2 separate regions of the Homo sapiens genome follow, and region 1 is linked to region 2. The links come from fine-mapping of genetic effects on gene expression. Tissue or cell type: whole blood. Region 2 holds a variant in brackets; the other region holds the start of a gene. Each region is shown on its reference strand, or each on the opposite one.

Region 1 (8,602 bases), not on the chromosome of region 2:
CCCACGTACTAGGGAGGCTGAGGGAGGAGAATTGCTTGAACTCAGAAGACAGAGGTTGCAGTGAGCCAGGATAATGACCCCGCACTCCCACCTGGGTGACAAAGTGAGATTCTGTCTCAAAAAAAAAAAGATACTGGAAAGCCGCTGCTTCATCTAGAGCATGTACTTATTTGCATTTGTGGCATAATATGAAACATATCTGGTCATTGTCCCTGGTTCCTGTCTCAGAGCTCCCAAAACCTCTGGAATTTCCTGATAGGAATATCTTTTGTTATATTCATAATGAGCCCCTTTCAGTCACACCTGAGTTTATGCTAATGAAGTGACTTAGAGTGGGGCCTCTACATAGACTCAGGATGGGGCTGGTCACCAGAAAGACAAATGATTAGAGGACTGAACTTTCAGTCCCATCCACCAACCTCTGGGAAGGAAAGGGATGGAGACTGGGCTCTATTAGGCTTGAACAATGAGACTCATGAGCTTCTGGGATGCTGAACGTAGGGAGGTGCTGGATTGGAGCCTGCCCAGAAGAGCATGGAAGCTCTGCCACCCACTCCCCATGCCCTGCCCTGTGTATCTCCTCTGTCCAGCCATTTCTGACTCGTACTCTTTATGATAAACCAGTAAATGTAAGTAAGTGTTTCCAGCGTTTCCCTTAGTTCCATGAGCCACTGTAGCAGACTATCAAACCCAAGGAAGCAGGAGCGGGAGCCCTGACTTGTAGTTGGTCATCGGAAATCCTGAAGATCCAGACTGTGACCGGCGCCTGACGTGGCGGAAAATCTTCTGGGACTGAGCCCTTAACTTGCAGGATCTGACATTAACTCCAGGTAGAGTCAGAATCAATTAAATAACAGGACAGCCGGCTGGTGTTAGAGAGCTGGAGAATCCCTTTGTGTCCCACAGGTGTTGTATGAGAGTGCAGAGAAATGTGTTCCCGACGCTCCTGAAGTTGCCTCCCTAATTTACTGCCTTCTTAATTAATTCCACTGCTTTATACTCATGAGAGTGCAGAGAAACAGTATGTGTTCCCGACGCTCCTGAAGTTGCCTCCCTAATTTACTGCCTCCTTAATTAATTCCACTGCTTTATACTCACTTTGAGAAACTGTCTTCTGTTATCCGGGTGTAGTCAGAGCCTAAAGGAGATTTTAAGAAACAAGGTATCATACCCATTACAGGCAGCTTTGCAGCCTTCTTCAAATTCCTCATGCCGCAGAACCTGGTGTGAGATTTAGAATAAATTGTGAAGTGTTGCTAGTACTGCTCACAGCGTCTTTAGCACAGACTAAAATGTCAAAACACAAACATTATCATTTATAAGCTTTACTTGTAAAAGAACAAAAGCAAATGAGCTTTACACTTCTCCCAGGATAGAAGCAGTGGAAGGACGAACAGCTTGACACCAAGGGTCAGGCTACCAAATCAGTTGTGAAATCTATTTAGATTGGTAAGCAGTGCTATGCAGTGGGAAAAAGTGTGGCCTTCAGCATTAAAGAAGTCTGATTTGGGCCGGGCACAGTGACTCACGCCTATAATACCAGCACTTTGGGAGATCAAGGTGGGTGGACTGCCTGAGGTCAGGAGTTCAAGATCAACCTGGCAAACATAGTGAAACCCCGTCTCAACTAAAAATACAAAAATTAGCCAGGCGTGGTGGCGTGTGCTTGTGATCCCAGCTACTCAGGAGGTTGAGGCAGGAGAATCACTTGGACCATGAGATGGAGGTTGCAGTGAGCCGAGATCGTGCCCCTGCACTACAGCCTGGGTGACAAGAGCAAAATTCCATCTCAAATTAAAAAAAAAAAAAAAAAAAAAAAAAAAAAGATGGGCATCGTGGCTCACGCCTGTAATCCCAGCACTTTGGGAGGCTGAGGTGGGCAGATCACCTGAGGTCGGGAGTTCGAGACCAGCCTAGCCAACACAGTGAAACCCCATCTCTACTAAAAATATAAAAAATACAAAATTAGCCAGGCATGGTGGTGGGCGCTTGTAATCCCAGCTACTCAGGAGGCTGAGGTAGGAGAATTGCTTGAACACGGGAGGCAGAGGTTGCAATGAGCTGAGATTGCACCATTACACTCCAGCCTGGGTGACAAGAGCAAAACTCAAACTCAAAAAAAAAAAAAAGTCTGATTTGGAATTCTGTCATTTAGTAGTTGTGTAACTCTGAGCAAATTAGAATCTGAGTCTCAGTCTCCTAACATGTGATGGGAATGGATGTTATGAAAGCATCTCACAGAACCCTGCACACAGCGGGCTCTCAACGTGTTAGCTTTAGCCCTCCTTTTTGATTCCCACGGCTCCTGCCAGTTGAAGTTCCCAACGCTTCGCTCAGACTATTAAAAATCATCCTTATTGGCCGGGCGCGGTGGCTCACGCCTGTAATCCCAGCACTTTGGGAGGCCGAGGTGGGTGGATCATGAGGTCAGGAGATCGAGACCATCCTGGCTAACACAGTAAAACCCCATCTCTACTAAAAATACAAAAAATAAGCAGGGCGTGGTGGCGGGCGCCTGTAGTACCAGCTACTCGGGAGGCTGAGGCAGGAGAATGGTGTGAACCCAGGAGGCGGAGCTTGCAGTGAGCCGAGATTGCGCCACTGCACTCCAGCCTGGGCGAAAGAGCGAGACTCCGTCTCAACATAAAAAAAATAAAAAATAAAAAATAAAAAAATCCTTATTGATATCCTTCCTTAATAACACCAAAAAAGCACATGCCTAAAGCACAAAGCACTGATCCCATCACCACCCTGTTTAAGAACATAAGTGAGCTCCCATCTTACTGCAGCATAAAATCCAAATTCTTTAGCATAGCATTCAAGATACTATTAGAAGCAATGCCGACCTGTCCATCCTGATATCCCATCTCCTTAACTTCAACTAAGCAACCTCAACTAAAGGCACATAAAACCAGCGGCTTCGCAAACATGTGCCATCTCCGCACTGGCTCTTCAGTTTTACTATGTAGCTCCTCCTCTCATCTACCTGTGGATATCCTATCTTTAGACGTCAACTCGAATCCTGGCTAACACGGTGAAACCCCGTCTCTACTAAAAATATTTTTAAAAATTAGCCGGGTGTTGTGGTACGCGCCTGTGGTCCCAGCTACTCGGGAGGCTGAGGCAGGAGAATGGTGTGAACCCGGGAGGCTGAGCTTACAGTGAGCCGAGATCGCGCCACTGCACTCCAGCCTGGCGACAGAGCAAGACTCCACCTCAAAAAAAAAAAAAAAAAAAAAAGTCAACTCGAATACAAGGTCTACATGAATTATTTCCTCATCACCCAGGTTGGAAAACCGCTCCTTCTTTTGTATTTTTATAATAGTGGCTAACACTTATATAATCTACTATTACCGATATGTTAAATACTATACATATAATAAGGTGTTGAATCTTTTTTTTTTTTTTTTTTTTGAGACGGAGTTTTGCTTTCGTCATCCAGGCTGGAACACAATGGTGCGATCTCGGCTCACTGCAACCTCCGCCTCCCAGATACAGGCGATTCTCTTGCCTCAGCCTCCCGAGTAGCTGGGATTACAGGCGTGTGCCACCATGCCCGGCTAATTTTTGTATTTTTAGTAGAGACAGGGTTTCACCATGTTGGCCAGGCTGGTGTCCAACTCCTGACCTCCAGTGATCCACCCGCCTTGGCCTCCCAAAGTGCTGAGATTACAGGCGTGGGCCACCGCGCCGGCACGTGTTTAATCTTTGCAACAACCTTTTGATCGACGAGGAAATACTAACAAGGGACAGCTCTGTGGTTTCTGCTATCGAAAGTTTGGTGGTTTTTCACTATCAAATTCTGACTTCCATTACCATCATCTACGTACAAATCCAGTTCCAACTCCCACCCCAACCCAGGCCATGAGCTCTAATGGAGGATATATATCAGGGTCATTTGCACCTTTGTTGCCAAAACTCAACGTAGTACCCTGAAAATAGCAGATATTTTAAAAATGACCTGACGAATTCAGATCCCCGTCTATTGCACCGTCTATACACTAAACCGCGCTCTTGCACCTTTCAAGTCTTCCTTAGTGGTGTGTTCCCTACCTCCCTGGCTTATCAAAGGAGGTCCCCAAAACCCAGTTCCCCAACCAACTGAATCCTGCAAATAACAGCTCCTCAGGACCCGAGACAGACCGCTTCTGGGTGCTGTTGAAAAGCAGATGGGTTGAGAGTTGGAGCATATATTCAGAGACTGAGTATCCGAAACGGACTATTCAGACCAGCCTTGCTAGAAGCAGAACTCTGAATACGCTGATTTTATCTACATCAAAGGCTCCAAACCGGAAAACACAAATATTAACTAGAAAGCATTATATAACATTTTATTTACCGTCTTTTCCGGTAGACGGTAAGCTCCACAAGGGCGGGGCTCAATAAACGTTTACGAGTGGCTTAAATGAAAGGACGTGCGTGGGCACACCGCGGGGACTAATCGTGTTAGGCCCTTCTCCAAGGCCTATGATCCCCAACGGCAACTCGCCACGCTCCTGAAGCTGAACACCGCGCAGGGCCTAAGGTCGGACACCCTCCGGCTTAGGTTCACGACACACCCATTTTCCCCTCCCTCCGCCAGGGCCGGCTCGGGCGCCGGTTCCAGCCTCGCGCGCCAGCCCCTGTCGGCCCCGGCCTGCACCTTCATCCCCAGGACGTCCCGATAGAAACGCGCCGTCTGGAAGCGGTTTCCCACTTTGAATACGAAGTGCAGAGCTCTGCGAGCAGCCATGATTCCCGCCGCACGCAGCCGTCACGCGCACCGTACAGCCCAGTCCACGAAGGGCGCCACGGGCCGTGACGTCACTAGCCGCCGACGGCGCGCTTTCGTGACGCAGCCCGGGTCTCAGGGAACATGGCGGCGCTGGTGAGACCCGCGAGGTTTGTCGTGCGACCGTTGCTGCAGGTGGTCCAGGCTTGGGACCTTGACGCGAGGCGCTGGGTCCGGGCGCTGCGGCGGAGCCCAGTGAAAGTGGTGTTTCCTTCCGGAGAGGTGGTGGAACAGAAGCGCGCTCCTGGGAAGCAGCCCCGCAAGGCACCATCTGAGGCCAGTGCCCAGGAGCAACGAGAGAAACAACCGCTCGAGGAGTCCGCATCCCGCGCTCCCAGCACCTGGGAAGAGTCTGGGCTTCGCTACGATAAAGCTTATCCCGGGGACAGGAGGCTGAGGTGATGTGGTTCTTGAGCCTGTCGAATGTTCTCGTTTCCCTTCCCGTCGCACAGCGGAACCTTAACCTCCTTCCGATGGAGGACTTCTTCCAGTACAGCCCGCTGGTTTTTGTATTATGCACAGAGGGCCGAATAAGCGTCTTTGGAATTAGCTTCTGTTTCTCCTTAGCTCTTTGTTGTTGTTTTTGTTTCACCATGTTAGCCAGGCTGATCTGGAACTCCTGACCTCAGGTGATCCGCCCGCCTCGGCCTCCCAATGTGCTGGGATTACAGGCGTGAGCCACCGCGCCCGGCCCTCTCCGTAGCTCTTTATTTCTGTTACAACTAAGCGTGTCTCAGTAACAAGGATGTTGATAGTTACCTGTTTTTTTTTTTTATTTCCATCTACAGCAGTGTAATGACAATAGTAAAGTCCAGGCCATTTCGGGAAAAACAAGGGAAGATCCTGCTGGAAGGTCGCAGGCTCATTTCAGACGCTCTCAAGGCTGGAGCTGTGCCAAAAATGTTCTTCTTTAGCCGTCTAGAATACCTAAAGGAGTTGCCAGTCGATAAGCTGAAAGGTGTCAGCCTCATTAAGGTGAAATTTGAGGATATCAAGGATTGGTCCGACCTCGTAACGCCACAAGGAATAATGGGTTAGTGATTACCCAGTGTATCTTTTTTTTTTTTTGTCTTGTTCTGTCACCCAGGCTGGAGTGCAATGGCGCGATCTCGGCCCACTGCAACCTCCGCCTCTCGGGTTCAAGGGATTCTCTTGCCTCAGCCTCCGCAGTAGCTGGGATTACAGGCGTCTGCCACCATGCCCGGGTGATTTTTGTATTTTTAGTAGAGGTGGGGTTTCACCATGTTGGCCAGGCTGACGTCGAACTTGTGACCTCAGGTGATCCTCCTGCCTCGGCCTCCCAAAGTGCTGGGATTACAGGCGTGAGCCACCATGCCTGGCCTTACACAGTGTATCTTAAGGTGTGGAGACCTAGGATTAATTTCTCATACTTGTCTTAGGACAGCAGCATTGAAATGAAATTCAAAATGTTACAATTAGAAAAATATAATTCTCAAACCTGTGTATCTTAGAGTATTTTCAATGGAAATTGAAACCCGTTTTTCACTATCATTTGTGTTGTGGCTCTTTATGGTCTCTAGGAAGAACCACTATTCCTCAAACCTTCTATTTTTTAGATTACTTCTTCAACTTTCTATGTCAGATTAAAAATTAAGAAAGCGTTTACTGAAAGATTGAGCCCTTCATTTTTGCAAAACCTCTGCCAATGTGGTGATAACTGTCAATAAACTGCTTATTCCAGAAGCAGATCTAAGAAGCGAGGTACAAGCCACAATTTACTGCCCCGTTTAGCCCAATAAACAGAGAACCTTGTCTTCTAGTCTGTTCCTTCATTTGGCTGAATCTGACTTAACCTTATGTAACTCCGATGTTGATTAGCAGTTACAAAGTCTTTGGTCTAAATATGAGAAGATAAGTTTTTCATACGTTTTTGACATGGGAGTTTTAAGATATGAAAACTGAATCCTTGAACTGCTGAGAGAGGAGATTCTGGGGAACCATCTCTTGTCTCTGTAACCCAGTGAGTCACAGGGATCTGTGCCTCTGCACTCAGAGCTCTTAGATCCTAGGATGGGGACTTGGATTACTAAAGTACCTAGAATTACTCATGCTAAGTAACCATATTCTCACTAGCTACAGCCCTCTAATCCACACGCCATGCTTCAGTGAAAGTGTTATTCATTTTTACCGTGCTTGTCACTTGGGGCAGGTGTGCTCACAGTGGCCAGCCCATCTTGAACTTGTGCTTGTCACTTGGGGCAGGTGTGCTCACAGTGGCCAGCCCATCTTGAACTTGTGCTTGTCACTTGGGGCAGGTGTGCTTACAGTGGCCAACCCATCTTGAACTTCATCATCATACCTGCTTTCATCATTTCCTGGCTTATCCTTATGTTACTATATTTTAGATTTGAGGGCAGGGAATAAGGGAGAAATGGATAGGAACTGGCAGCACCTGTCAGGCTTTAGACAGACACTCCCCAGAATCCAGCGACATAAGTAGGGCCTCCGTATAGTGGGTTCTCATCACCACAGACATCCAAGTAGAAGTAAAGGACTTCTAAGGTCCTCAGCCCTACTGAATGGCTTTTGGCCATCTGTGACTCCGAAGTGGAGGCTCTCTCACAGCACACAGACGCCTAATACCCTTCCATTGCCTTCAGTGGTGGATAGGCTTTTTACCTGCACCATCTTTTAGAAAGAATCCTAAATCTTTGATTGTATCATGTTTCAGTACAAGTACTATTTCATTCATCTCCTGACTTCAGTCAGTAGCCCATTTATTGTAGCAATCATATACGACAAAATACTAGTAAGATTCAAAAAAACTGTACAGTCCCTTGGGAGCAGACTACAAAGGGATTGAATATTTGATAATTATACATAAAGAGTTTAGGGTAGTGCTTGGCTTAAAAAAAAAAGCTTACTAAAAGGTTATCATTATCACCTCTACCAGTAAACATGGTGATTCAAAAAGAAACTTGTGGATATGTGATACACCCATGTGAATAACTTCATCTATACCACAGCAATTTCATGTACTCAAAGCCATTTTTAATATTGTTATTAGCCTTTTTCCAATTTTTCTCTTTTCCCATAAATTCTTTCCATAAAACTTTAGAGATTAATAATGTAGAGATTATATAATGTAGATTATTATATAATGTATATATAATTTTATCATGTAGAGATCATTAAATAAGGAGAGAATTTTCCACTAAGAAGGCCACTTAGGGTTTTCATTTTCCCAGATAGTCCCAGACCCCATTTTACTCCTTTGTATTAGACTGAGGACAGAGCGGTCGCCAGTAAGTGGCTGTACCCATTCTAAAGCTCCCAGGCTTCTGGACCTCCAGCGTGAGGCCTTGGAAGTGACTCAAGCGTTCACTGCACCTACAGCCCCTTCGTTTTGCAGAGTATGTCCCTAAGACAGTGCTTCTGAGCCAGCGTATTTGAAAAAGGGGTTGTTACTTTGATGCATTCAAGTTTTGAAATTCATATTCTTTTTCCTAGGAATGTAGTTTGAATTTTAAAATGAGTGATAAAGGAAAGATAAATCAGTATAGCAGGCTAATAATTGTTTTTTAAATATTTAAGCCTATAAACTATTTTTTAAAAGCCTACCTGGTAGGAAGATGGGCACAGGTTGTAGAAACAAGACAGTTAAAGGAGCACAGGAATTCACTGAAGAAGATCGCAGTCAGTCAGTAAGGTGTTTAGCTTCTCTAGTAATCAGAGAAAAGGCAAGTTAAAATAATGGCATGCTGTTTTTTCTATCACATTGGGACAAATGGAAACAAATGATAGACCCGCTTTTAAGAAGGGTTTGAGCTGGAAAACAGGTTTTGTTTTGTTTTGTTTTTTGTTTTTGAG
Region 2 (8,602 bases):
ATACATCGTTTAAATTACAATGTATTTGTAACAAAAATCTTAGTGTAATACAGTGATTTATATGTTACTTTTTAATATTCATTTTTTGCTTTATATTTGTGTGTTAATTGTTCAATGAGATGCTTGGCTTACAAGATTTTTCTCACCCATATTTAGGTGAATGTATTTGAATTATAAATCTGTGGTGAACAGGGGCTGCACAGATTTAAGGTAATTTTAATATGATCAACAAACTGACTTTTTTTAGAAAAGGTAGAGTTTTGATGTAAACTAATATTTTGATAATAATCCTAGCACCCATGGGTTTAGACAAGTGTTTTTACTCTTATATGATCCAAAAGAAATTAAAGTGGCTGGGCGTGATGGCTCATGCCTGTAATCCCAGCACTTTGGGAGGCTGAGGTGGGCACATCATGAGGGCAGGAGATCGAGACCATCATGGCTAACACGGTGAAACCCCGTCTCTACTAAAGTACAAAAAATTAGCCGGGCATAGTGGCACAGGCCTTTAGCCCCAGCTACTTGGGAGGCTGAGGTAGGAGAATCGCTTGAACCCGGGAGGCGGAGGGTGCAGTGAGCCACTGCACGCCAGCCTGGGCAACAGAGCCAGACTCCGTCTCAAAAAAAAAAAAAAAAAAGAAAGAAAAGAAATTAAAATATAATTTTACATTTGAGACACACTAACAATTCAGTTGTCTGATTTAATATTTCTACTCTTGTTGTGGATGAATGTATATATTTTTAATAGAACTTTGGATTTTAAGCAGGAAGTTACTGTAACATCAAGTAAATTGTTAGAAAGTCGTTCTTCAAGCTCCAAATGAAAGATTCTTCACTCTTTGAAACCTTCTTTTGCTGACTCCATAGACTTAACCACTTGTGATTAGAGTTCCCTTGACCTTGAAATTGCATTACAGATAGTTGTCTTTGGTGCTACTTTCCTTAACAGACCACAACTTCTTGAGTGCAGAAACCATAGTTTATTGCTCTCCTAATTCTAAGTGAAAAAGGAAAGGAGAAGAGAATGTAAAAAGCAGGGGAAAGAGGCAAGCAGAAATAAAATAGTCTTTGAATATTTTGCAGCCACTTAATAAATTCTTAAGTCAGATCCTTTTTGTCCCACTTCTGACTTCTGGTTGACTTTATGTCTACTGGGATGGCCTCTTCTCAAGACTCAATTGTGTTCCAGTATGTTTTCTTTCTTCTCTCTCAGCATACCTCCCATTTCGCCCAAGTTATACAGTAAACTTGCTGTTTGAAAGAAAGCGCTGGACTTGTTTAATTTATATTAAAGAATGGGTGACCATTTATTGCTTTTATATGGTATCCCAATTTGATGTTAACATTTTAAAAAAAGACATGCTGACACAAAGTAGTAAATCTCTAATGGTAGAAATTATCTGTACAAATTTGGGATATAAGAGCATTGATTATCAGTACTCTTTGTCCTGCTTTCCTCACTGTCCTGCTTTGCTGAATAGTATTTGCAGAAGAGAGAAAGAGTTAGTATGCAGGATAATTTACAGAAACAAGTATGATGTGGGAAGAATAGAGTTTTTTGAGAGCTTAATAAATTTTTTTCAACATAACTTTTGAATGATTCACTCTGGTCATTTAGACAGGAGGCCCAAATAGCAATGTTAGAAAGCTGCCAGAGAATTTGTTACACAAGATAAATCCAGCCTTTGGGAAATCTTGTGGTATTCCTAATTACCTTCTTGTTTCTTTATACACGTAAGGCTTGGATGCTGGAAGATAACACAATTATATCTCCTCCCCCAATCCCTATGTAACAGATTTTCCACATTGAATTTCATTTTTGTTTTTTAAATAATATCAAACCTTTGCATTTCTCCAGGTTAGTAAAAATGCAGGCCTCATTGTGTTGCTAAAGGATCTTCCTCTTTTCCCCACTTAGAATTTTCTGAACCTAATCAGCAAGGAGCATTTTGCCAGGCTCCTGGTCATTGGTCCATAAATGAATGACACTCTTCAGGCCAAGGGCTAGCTAATTGCCAATTCCGAACTCTGTGTGTTAACTAGTGTGTGTTCTTTTCACTTTTCAAAGTCATAACGGATCAGGTACAGTGGCTTTTGCTTCCACATTTGAGCTGCCTGAATAAACAGGAGGTAATCCCTCACCTTAGGCTGCTGCATAATGCATTCCAGCTTGTTGCTCTGAGTATTTTTTGACAGCTTTAACATTTGTTACTGGTAGTTGATCTTGGACTTTTTGATCCATGAATCTGAATGGTACGGCTTGTCCTCATGCTCATCATTTCTTGGTCAGCAAATTAGTCTGGGGCCCTTGCTCAGGATCGTACTAAAAATGAAAATCCCCATGCAAAATAAGTATTTCCATAATTTTGAGTATCTTTGTTGAAAAAGAAAAAAATGTTCTCTCTTTTTAATGGCATGAGACAGTTATTCTTCCATCATGTGAGCATCTTGCTCTCTGTTTACAATGTGTATGTTATGCAGATTCTTATACAAATATCTTTTCTATTTTTTTAAACGAAGGCAGGTTCACACCTCTGTCTTGTGTCCACCTTTCCAGGTACCAGTGCCTCTCATTTATTCTTAGTTTTCAGTATTGCGATTTGTTTTAGGTAGACGATTTGCGCCTTGAAAAATAGTCATTGCAAACAATGAGTAAATACTTAAAAAAAATTATAGTGTTTGTATAGTAAAAGTGTGTGTTTTTTCTCTTCTAAATTTACTGTAATGTCACATTTTACTTGTAAATAAGTAGGAATTTCAATGTAGTAACGTAAATAAGTAAAATTAAATAACCAGTAGTTCTAAATACTGTTTTAATTGTTATTGTCTGTTTACTTCATAGTAGTAATTGTAGGAATATATTTCAAGAAAGTAAATGTAAAGTCTAACAAAGTCACTACATTATTTGTTATAGTAAAAAATATCAATAACCAAAATGCCCAAAATGAAGTAATTGATCAAATTTAATGAGAACAACCTGAGGGAATATTATATGAGTGGAGACAATTGTATTTATTTAAAAAAATATAAAAAGTTGAAAAATGCTATTTTTATGAAAAAGCAGAATTTGACATCTAACATATGAAATGATCTAAATCAATGTTTTTCAGATGTTTTAGTTTCCATTTTTAAAAATAAAAAGTGTATTGTACCTATGACCCTCATATATGCATACATAATACACAAATAAAACAAGTTTTTCTCACACCTGTAATCCCAGTACTTTGGGAGGCCGAGGCAGGCAGATCATGAGGTCAAGAGCTCGAGACCATCCTGGCCAACATGGTGAAACTCTCTTCTACACTAAAAATACAAAAATTAGCTAGGCATGGTGGTGCGCACCTGTAGTCCCAGCTACTCGGGAGGCTGAGGCAGGAGAATCGCTTGAACCCGGGAGGCAGAAGTTGCAGTGAGCCGAGATGGTGCCACTGCACTCCAGCCTGGCAACAAAAGGAGACTCTGTCTCAAAAAAAAAAAAAAAAAAAAGAAAGGTTTTTCAAAACAATAGTCATCCCATTAAATATAATGTATATTGACATTTTCTTTTTTCTCTCTGTTTTAATTTAATTTTAAAAGAATTTGAATTGTGACCTGTTAAAGTGATTTATTGACCAAAAAATGGGTTGTGATGTGTAGCTAACAAGACATTGACCTAAAATACATAAACGATGTACTTTGAAAATATTCTAGAAAGAAATGCAGTATAATATTAATATTTTATACATAACATTTAGATATGGAATATTTACATTTTTCCCTCATTCTGCTCCAAAGTTTTAAAAATATTGGCAGTAAACATTTTAACCTCACAAGTGTGACTCAACTTTTCACGTGCCATATTTTTTCATCAAGTGTAAATATGTTTTACTTTTCCAAGTGCTTTCTTCCAGCTTCTTTTCCGTTTTTGGTAGGGTAGAGCCCAGGTTTTAAAACACAGAGTATTTTTCTGGACCTAGTAAGTTCAAGATAAATAACTATTACATGAGTGAGTGAGTTAAGTGCTTGAATGGCTTTATAAAACTTAACTCAAATGTGTTTTTATGAAGTAAATGTTAGTTTTTATTATTATTTTATTCACTTCATTACAGAGCAACATCAGCTCTACTAAAATGGAAGTTAATATAGTCAAATGACATTTTCATATTCAAAATATACTCTTGTCCAAAACATGTCTTCAGTGTTAGGACAGAGTTATGTTTGGTGATAATGCTGTATAAAATGTCATCCTGCTGAAGAAAGAACGTAGGCTTGGGAGCCAAAACAGTTTGTAGTGATCTCGCTGAGCCACTCCGTTGTAAAATGAAAATAATAATATTTGCCTCATAAGCTTTCTGAGTAATTAATTTGTATAAAATACCTAGGTTCATGACTGGCACATATGTTAAGCGCCTGCCTTTCCTTTTCCCCAGCTACTGGGTAATATTTTAAAATATTTTATAATTTTAAAGAAAATTGTTGTCATTTACAGTCAGCCCTTCGTATGTGATGTGGAACCCGTGGACACAGAGGGCCGGCTTTTGGATCCAGGGTTGTTGACTGAGTACACCGATGCAGAGCCACACATACTGAGTGCTGGCTGTACTACCATTTCATACAAGCGACTTGAGCATCCACAGCTTTTTGTATCCACAGGGTTTGCGGAGCCCTTCCTCAATGGATAATGAGAGCAAACTGCAATTAGCTGTATATAAAATTACAATCTTTAAAAACGTAGGCTTTTATATCAACTGAAGTGACTCAGGTTCAGCAACGCATAATATAATTTTTCTTTTCTTTCTTTTTTTTTTGACACGGAATTTTGTTCTTGTCACCCAGGCTGGAGTGCGGTGTGGCGCGATCTCGGCTCACTGTAACTTCCTCCTCCTGAGTTCAAGCGATTCTCCTGCCTCAGCCTCCCAAGTAGCTGGGATTACAGGCATGCGCCACAATGCCCGGCTAATTTTTTATTTTTAGTAGAGACGGGGTTTCACCAGATTGGCCAGGCTGGTTTCAAACTCCTGACCTCAAGTGATCAGCCCGCCGCAGCCTCCCAAAGTGCTGGGATTACAGGCGTGAGCCACCATGCCCGGCCGCCAAGATAAATTTTATAAATAAATACATAAAGTGTAAATATGAAGTGGGAAAAAAATACCATCTAATTTTAAAAAGATACAACACTTACACAGATATGATATGGGGGGAAT[A/G]TATCTTAGAACCAAAAGTACTAAGTTGAATATAAATCATCATGTTGTACTATACCTATGAAAGGGAATTCTCATATATATTTCAGAAGATTTGGCCAACAAGAATAGAAAATGTCTTTGAGCTCATCCCTGTGTTCTTTAGGATCTTCATTTAAAAAGCAGAGTTGTCATTCTTGTTTTTTGTTTGTTTTCAGGGTGTACTAAAAAACTAAAGTCAGTTCACCATCGTACATGAAAAATTCTCAAAAAATTTGTAAACAAACATTAAAGATTTAATTTGATTTAATTTAATAGAGGAAATTAAGATTAATTTAATACAAATCTCTGTGCACATTCAAAATAGAAATGGTGAATTCTTCTTCATGTTCACTGAGAAGAGATAAGGATATTGGTTAAACTGGCAAAGAGAAAGAGCAAAAAGGGAAGGTGCTGTTGAAATTTTAAAGCAGTCTTTTAAAATATAACTGACCAAAATGATTTTTAGACTCTGATACAACAAAATAAGTGATTGAATTTTTGAAGTCTCATAACTTAATAAAATAGTATGATGTCCCAGAGGTTTTGATTTACATCTGAATAGAACCTTTTAATGAAAACAAAATATACACAAAAATGAATAAATAAAAATAAAAAATATTTTACTGAGAAAAAAAGAGATTATTGATCATTTAATATAGGGGTAATTTCCTTAATACATCTATTTATTAATGTTATGAATTAATTTTCTCAACTTAGAAAAAGTATTCCCTACATAGTATGAAAAATTCAAACAATGTGATAATAAAAGGTAATGCTGCACAGGAGGTAAACACACAAACTACTGGGCTTGAATTCAAGTTCTGACTCCATCTATTAATATTTCTGTAAGTCTATATACAAATGTCGCTTAATCTCTCTTTGCCTCAATTTTAAAAAAAATGTAAATGAAAATTAAAATAATTCTTGTTTCTATTATGGGGCTTAAATTGCGTAATACTGGCAGATTACTTAAAACAGTGCTTGGCACAGAATAACTATCCAATATATTTTAGCCTTTATAATTATTGTATAATAATATAGTCAAAAGACACAAGCAGAGAGTGCTTACAGAAAGAACAAAATGGGGCAACAAGTATATAAATCAGAGCCAACCATTCTTACAACCAAGTAAATGAAACAATGAGACCTTTGTTAACATATCGGATTGAAAGATTTATCTGTTGTTATAGGTGTGGGAAAAAAAGAGACTCTCAAACACTGTTGGTGAGAGTATAAACTGGCATAACCTTTCTGAGGGCAATTTAGAAACTATCAAAGTGAAACTGCACGCATCTTTTGACCTAGAAATCTGACTTCTAATATTACTGATATTTAAACATGTCTACAATCTTGTTAACAGAAAACTAATGGATGCAACATAGCAGTTCTAGTATGAGTTGTATGTGCTTCAGAAAAGTACATATACACATTCATACAAAATATGAGTATGCATACAGTCATGTACCCCATAACAATGTTTTGGTCAATAATGGACTGCATATATGAGGGTGCTTCAATAGTGGAGCTGAAAAATTCCTATCATTTAGTGACATTGTGTCCTTTGTAATGTACTGCAATGCATTATTCAACGTTTATGGTGATGCTGCTGTAAACAAAACTATTGGACTGCCAGTTACATAATGATAATATACAACTATGTTACTGGTTTACATATGTACTATACTATACTTTTCATCATTACTTTAGAATGTTCTCCTTTCAGATATTTTTTATAAAGTTGAGTGTAAAACAGCCTTAGGCAAGTTCTTCAGGAAGTATTCCAGAGGAAGTCATTATTATAATCATAGGAGATGACAGCTTCGTGCATCTTATTACCACTAAAGACCTTTCAGTGGAACAAGATGTAAAGGGGCAAGACAGTGATACTGATGATCCTGACCCTTTGCAGGCCTCGGCTGATGTGTTTGTTTATGTTTTAGTTTTTAATTTAAAAAGCGTAAACATTAAAAAAAATTAAATAGAAAAAATCTTATAGAAAAGAACATAAAGAAAAATATTTTTGTAGGGTGTCAATTTTGGATCTTTCCTGCTTTCTCTTGTGAGCATTTAGTGCTATAAATTTCCCTCTACACACTGCTTTGAATGTGTCCCAGAGATTCTGGTATGTGGTGTCTTTGTTCTCGTTGGTTTCAAAGAACATCTTTATTTCTGCCTTCATTTCGTTACGTACCCAGTAGTCATTCAGGAGCAGGTTGTTCAGTTTCCATGTAGTTGAGAGGTTTTGAGTGAGTTTCTTAATCCTGAGTTCTAGTTTGATTGCACTGTGGTCTGAGAGACAGTTTGTTATAATTTCTGTTCTTTTACATTTGCTGAGGAGAGCTTTACTTCCAACTATGTGGTCAATTTTGGAATAGGTGTGGTGTGGTGCTGAAAAGAATGTATATTCTGTTGATTTGGGGTGGAGAGTTCTGTAGATGTCTATTAGGTCTGCTTGGTGCAGAGCTGAATTCAATTCCTGGGTATCCTTGTTAACTTTCTGTCTCGTTGATCTGTCTAATGTTGACAGTGGGGTGTTAAAGTCTCCCATTATTATTGTGTGGGAATCTAAGTCTCTTTGTAGGTCACTCAGGACTTGCTTTATGAATCTGGGTACTCCTGTATTGGGTGCATATATATTTAGCATGGCACATGTATACATATGTAACTAACCTGCACATTGTGCACATGTACCCTAAAACTTAAAGTATAATAATAAAATTTAAATAAATAAATAAATAAATAATTTTGAATATGTAGTTGCATAAAAAAAGAAAAATATTTTTGTATAGCTCTACAATGCATTTGTGTTTTAAGCTCAATGTTATGAGTCAAAAAAGTTTACAAAATTAAGTTTATAAAGTAAATTAATTACAGTAAGCTAAGGCTAATTTATTGAAGATACAAAAAGATTTTAAATAAATTTAGTGTAGCCTAAATGCACAGTGTTTATAAAGTCTACAGTAGTGTACAGTAATGTCCTAGGGCTTCACATTCACTCCCATTCACTCCTGAACTCACCTAGAGCAAAATACCAACCCTGCCGCCTCCATTCAAAGTAAGAGCCCTAGACAGGTATAGCATTTTTTCTTTCATACCACATTTTGCTATACCTTTAATACATTTAGATACATGCGTAAGGTTACTAACCATTGTCTTCCAATTGCCTATAGTGTGCAGCACGGTAACATGCTGTGCAGGTCTGTAGCCTAGGAGCAGCAGGCTATGTCCCATAAAGCCTAGGATTGTAGTAATCTATACCACCCAGGTTCGTTAAAGTATATTTATGATGTTTTCACAAGAAATCGCCTAATGGGGCATTTCTCAAAATATATCCCTGCCATTAAGTGAAGAGTGACTGTATAGGCATACCTTGCTTTATTGCTCTTTGGTTTATTGCAGTT

Evidence for each region. PIP is the estimated chance that this variant, and not a neighbour inherited with it, causes the effect. A credible set is the group of variants that fine-mapping cannot tell apart.
Region 1: it holds the start of MRM3, and the variant in region 2 is the best candidate, but not a certain one, in a credible set for the expression of MRM3 in whole blood (TOPMed, PIP 0.55).

What each region holds. Positions count from the first base shown.
Region 1 is chr17:777,524-786,125 of GRCh38, forward strand. MRM3 (mitochondrial rRNA methyltransferase 3) reads left to right here and starts at 4,830. Exons shown (of 4, transcript NM_018146.4): 1 at 4,830-5,169; 2 at 5,560-5,804. The coding sequence starts at 4,856. It overlaps GLOD4 (glyoxalase domain containing 4), which reads right to left and starts at 4,757. Exons shown (of 9, transcript NM_016080.4): 1 at 4,643-4,757; 2 at 1,172-1,221. The coding sequence starts at 4,732. RefSeq lists enhancers at 3,688-3,787, 4,788-5,137, 4,809-5,357.
Region 2 is chr11:99,503,910-99,512,511 of GRCh38, forward strand. The region is part of intron 2 of CNTN5 (contactin 5); the gene reads left to right. Among named protein-coding and RNA genes, the nearest start is that of CNTN5, 490 kb to the left of the region's middle. The variant A/G (reference allele first, on the strand shown) is at 5,184.